Linked DNA regions of Homo sapiens: region 1 is linked to region 2. A link means that fine-mapping ties the variant in region 2 to the expression of a gene that starts in the linked region. Tissue or cell type: whole blood. Region 2 holds a variant in brackets; the other region holds the start of a gene. All regions are shown on one strand. Distances are from middle to middle.

Region 1 (2,682 bases), 330 kb after region 2:
GATACTGCCCAAGTCCCTGTCTGCTGTATGGACAGGTCTTTTAAAGGGGGAAAGGGGACATTCACCGCCATCCTCCGAAGGGGTTATGGATCCAAGGGATGGTCAGGCTGCCCAGCTCCTCACTGGGGCTAATTCCGCCCCATTTTCCAGTAGCATCACTAACTCAGTATTTCTGCATGAATTTTGGCCCCTTCTCTCCTAGAAAGACTCTCCTCAACTACACTAAAATACAGTTATCTCTCCTGTATCTCGTGTCTTCTTCCGAGTTTAAGAGACAGAAGTTCAGGGGAGGAAGGCACCAAGCCTAACCGGGGTGGAATTCCCTATTTGCAAGCAGTGCCCGCCTAGGCTAGAGGGCAGGCTGTCCGCTCACCCTTCCAAACCCCAATCTTTGAACCCTCCTCAGCACGGCAGGGGAGGAATGTGCGGAAGCAGCATAAAGCCAGGTGGACTTTCTGGTTTGGCACGTGAAGGACCTGGAACAGGACTGTCGGGGAAGATCAGACAATGAGAGGGAAAAGGTGAAGCTTAAGGGGACTCTGGAAAACTCAACACTCCCGCAGGGTTTCAAAGAATCCCCAAGAAATTTCTTTTGAGAAGTCACAAAACAAAACTAGGCAAACAGATGCCTCGGTTTTGTAAGAGATTGTGAGTAGCTTTAGGCAGCAATGAAACCTGACTCCGGGCCAGGAGTGCCTAGGGTCGGTCCAGCGGAGCGCGCATTCAGCGAGGGGTGTTCGGCCGGGGCCAGGCGGGGCCCAGGCGGGGCCCGCTGGCAGCTGGTTCCCGCCGCCGCAGAGCCGCAGGGGCGGGAATGGGGACTCGCCGCGCTGCCTCGAGGAGGAATGATTCCAGGGACCCCCCGGGGTTCCGAGAGAGCTGGGCTGGTCCGGAATGAATTCCCCGTTCCTCTGGCTGCTGGCCCCGGACACAAGACCCTCCGTCTCCTGCCGAGAGAGGCTCCCCCAGCCGCCTCGCCACGCCGCAGCCCGTCCGCGCCCGCGTCCCCGCTTACTTTTCGTCGCAGCGATGAGGTTCTTCCCGTCCTTAATGAGCTCTTTGATGAACTTGTTGGTCCTCTCGAGTTCCGCTTCGTGAGCGCGGATCCTCTCCCGGAACCACGGGCTGTCGAGGTAGCAGTCGCTGAACTCCAGGGGCTGCAGCCCCATGACGGCAGCGGTCGCTGCGCGGTGCGCACGGCCGCGCGCTCCTGCCCGAGCCGAGCTCCGAGGCCGCTGCCAGGTGCGGCGCCGCGCGTTCAGGGAGCACAGAGGAGCTAGCAGGCCCGGGCGCGCGGCGAGCGCGGCACGGACATGTCCCGTAGAGCCGAGTCCTGCGGCGCGGAGGAGCTGCCACCGAGACCAGCGCTAGCTGCGGCGCCCCAATCCCGGCAGCCCCCGCCGAGCTCTGAGCGCCCGCGGCCCCGCCCCGCCCGGCCCCCGCGCGGCAGACACTCCCCGAGGCGCCACCCGGCCGGGCCCGCGCTCCCGCTCGTCCCCTTCTCTTTCCTCCGCCTTCCTTCTTCCTCCCTTCCCTTCCCTGGACGCCTCTTCCTTCTCTTCCCCACGCGCAGCTGCCCCTCCTCTTCCTTCCGAGGCGTCCTGGGGCTAGAATTTCGCCCCGCGGCTCCCCTCCACCCTGGGCGCTCTCCCCTCCCCTTTGCTTGGGCTCCCGGGGCCGGGGTGACTCACAGTCGGCTCCCCGCTGCACGGAACCCGACCGGGACCGAGAAGGAGCGTCTTAATTGCAGTCGTTAGTCCCCGCAGGCGGGCGACATAACTCTGAAGTGGCTGCCTTGCAGGAGATGATTAACTCATTTATCTCATTTATCCTGGGACGCCCCCAACCCCGAGCTGGGAACGAACTCGCACAGGGGGCTCTTTTCCTTATCCCGGTTCCTTTCCCAGTTTAAAGTGAGATGCGTGGTAAATCTCCGCTTGAGATCGAAGCCTTACAATGGCAAGAGCGTTTTCTTGGTGGCCCAGCAGCTCCTATTACACTTCTCTGCGTATCCGCACTAAATAACTTAGTTGAAGAGAGAGGGCTGGCTAAACCACAGAAAAGTTGTTTCTGTTGTGTTCAGCACATTAAATTTGCTGGGGTAGGTGAAGACGATCTTTATTATTCTAAAAATAACTACCGGAAAACATGCCAGGTAACGTGTGGTTTTCACCGCGTGGGGGTGACGATCAATGAGAATTTATGTCAGTGCCCTCAAAAAGCCTATTTTGTGTGTTATGAAACAACTCCAGTGTGTCCCAAAAAAAGTTAGGCATTTTAAAGTATTAAAATGTATACCTTAGGCCGGACGTGGTGGCTCACGCCTGTAATCCCAACACTTTGGGAGACGGAGGCGGGTAGATCACCTGAGGTCAGGAGTTGGAGACCAGCTGGCTAACATGGTGAAACCCCGTCTCTACTTAAAATACAAAAAGTACCCGGGTGCGGTGGCACGTGCCTGTAGTCCCAGCTGAGGCAGGAGAATCGCTTGAACCCAGGAGGCGGAGGTTGCAGTGAGTCGTGATGGTGCCACTGCACTCCAGCCTGGGCGACAGAGCGAGACAATGTCTCAAAAAAAAAAAAAAGTATTTCTTAAAAAAAAACACTAATAGTTCATTAGAGTAACGTTTCATAATCGCAATTTATTAAGCAATTATTATGTGCCGGGCACCCACTAGGAAC
Region 2 (2,682 bases):
CAAGTCTCATGTAAGGCAAATTCTCCAAAGAACGTCCTTGCTACTGAACTGGGTGAGGCACGGCCCTGATACAAGGTGGTAAGTGCTGTCCATGAAGTCCAGGATGCTGGGGGTATCTGGGCAAGCTTTTGCCAGCAGAGAACACAAGAACCTGCTCAGGTTCATCAAGCCCCCTGTGTGTGCTGCCACCATATTCCACATTCCACTCCAAACCACGTACCTTTCAGGTGGCTTGTCCGCTACAGTAGCAGGAGGAGAAAAGGGGAAAGGGGACGACCCGGGTGAAAGAGGTGTCACAGCTGAGTTGGAGCTTGTTGTGGTTGGAGACTGTGGGTTAAGCCACTGGACCATAGACGATCGGGTCTGGCCTGGGCTAAGGGTAGGAGTTTGAAGGACAGGATTAATAGCAGAAAGGCCACAGAACACGAAATGCACAACATCCCAATCCCAGATGACTAGGTCACTAATTCCCCTATCATGCCTGACCAGTAGGGACAGAGTCCTCTCTGCATCCTGCCGGGGCTGCAGCCCAAACTACGGATACCAACAACCCAGAAACCAGCCACAGCCCCAAACTCAAGCTGTCTTACTGTCCTTCTCCAGGTTCTCCAATCTGTCCAACCTGCTAGCACCCTATGAGTTCACTAATTAGAAAACCAGAATCTAATTGATCAAAGGAGTAGTGGGACATTCAAGGTATTCACTTTTTCTAATTATAAGGAAAACCACAGGAATCTAGCATCAAGCACATGACCGGCAGCTGCAAAAGATCAGCTAAACATTTAAAGATCTTTCACCTGCTCCTACACGTGTGGCAATTCAGAAGAAAATGCCACTGGATTCAGGCTTCCTCTAGAGAGGGCCAAAGACTTCGAAACCAATGAACAGCAAAAACTTCTGGTGACCAGAGCATTTCTTAATATTTCCCTTTTTTTTTAAAGTTAATGTAAACAGGTCAGTGAACAGACACCTGGAATGGCCTCTAAGCACAGAGGGAGAGTTCAAATAATTGATGCGTGTTAATCTGAATTACTCTTCAGTGACCTCAGAACTGGAGGCGACTATGGTTTATGACATTCCCTTGAGAAGTGTCTCGTTTCATTCAGTGACATTTTGAACACACACGTGTTCCCTGTCTGCAGCACCCAGGTGCTCTTCACCTAAGATACCCCGTCTTCTGCTAAACCAGTACACCAGTTTCCACGAGCAGTTTCCCGAGGCTTCTGCACTCCTCAGCATGCTCTCAGATTGTTTCCCCTGCCGGAGAACTAGCACCGTGTTCTTCAGTACCAGCATGGTCTCCTGGCCAGCCCCTAGGTGCAATCCTCCAACACGGTGACACTCAGCAACCTAGGGCCAAGTTTACCCACTTGTCTCCCTATACACAATGCTCCTGCACCTGCTCACCTACCAGGGGCCGTCCCGCCCCAGCAGCCTACCCTGTCTGCCACAGCTCTGCTTCCTGGCGTTCCCACCTCCGCCTCAAGCTTTGCCTTTCCTCTCAAGCTCCCCGCCCTGCTCTAATCTTGCCC[T/G]TCCTTGGCTCAGCTCCAGTTCCACCTCCCCCAATACTCCCCCTGTGGCCTCTCTAACCCATACACCTTCCCTGAAGGCCTGCGACACCAATAAATGAAAGGGCACATTGATACTGGTTGTTCTCTGATGCCTTCAAGTATTTCTCTTGCCTCCACAGGAAGATCTTTAACTCTTTTTCCAGATCTCACGAAGCCAGGCAGATTGGCGGGGACATGGAGCCATCAGCCAACATCGGAGCAACCAAATTAGAAAGCTCTAAAACCAAAAGTGGATTTTACAAATCTGGTGCATAATTGACTTGGTAGGTATTTAATACACAGAAGCTTTCCTATGCTTTGGTCAGGAAAAAAAGGGGGTCATTTAAAAAAAAAAAACATTATTCTTCTAAGAGCTTATTTACAATTCCCTTATCCAGCCATTCATCTGGGAGTCATAAAATCTATTTTATCCCAAGGCAAGATTTGTTATAAATCTTAAAGTGATCTGTATCAACAGTCACAAAAGTCACTCCATTTTTTTTTAGCAGAAAAGGAACGCTGAATGTTGTCTTACTAATCAGGAACGGAAAGGACAGGTAGGCGTGAGTGAAGCCCTGGCAGGAAATTAAGGCCACAGTTAGCCAAACAATTGCCAAGTTATCTCCCAGCAATTATTCAAGGTGCTTGGAGGGTGTGAATGGAGGAAGATGAGATGTTTTGCCACACCCCCCATCAGCTCTTCAGAGTCATAAATCGTCAATGACTGCCATCCCTCTGCCTAGAGGGAGGACAGTTACAGGAAGAAGATAAAGTAACTATGTGACTACACTTATGTGGCCCTTGAAAAATAAAGAGCATAAATTTTATAGGTATTGTCTGCTTGATCCTCACATCTTTCTTTAAAAAAAAAAAAGGAAACCTCCATGAAAACACCCGCGGGTGGGTGGGTGTGTTTGTTTAGGGAAAATACCCCTCAGTTTTTAGAAAGTGAAAGAACCACTGTAATGACAGATACGCAACAGAAAAGCCTGCCTGTCCCGCACCCTGGCTTTCTCCATCTCATCCCAAAACAGGAACACAGAATCAGCAGTCCTTGTCCAGGGTCAAGTTCTCCACATTCACCTTTTTTGTTTTTTTGTGATCTTTCTGTTGCTATTTAACACATGCGCTA

Evidence for each region. PIP is the estimated chance that this variant, and not a neighbour inherited with it, causes the effect.
Region 1: it holds the start of ARHGAP10, and the variant in region 2 is fine-mapped to the expression of ARHGAP10 in whole blood (INTERVAL, PIP 0.96).

Annotation. Positions count from the first base shown.
Region 1 is chr4:147,730,789-147,733,470 of GRCh38, reverse strand. ARHGAP10 (Rho GTPase activating protein 10) reads right to left here and starts at 1,383. Exons shown (of 23, transcript NM_024605.4): 1 at 1,016-1,383. The coding sequence starts at 1,169. RefSeq lists enhancers at 597-666, 1-879, 880-1,772 and silencers at 777-856, 1,167-1,686.
Region 2 is chr4:148,060,839-148,063,520 of GRCh38, reverse strand. ARHGAP10 (Rho GTPase activating protein 10) reads right to left here. Exons shown (of 23, transcript NM_024605.4): 21 at 221-373. Among named protein-coding and RNA genes, the nearest start is that of MIR4799, 280 kb to the right of the region's middle. The variant T/G (reference allele first, on the strand shown) is at 1,533.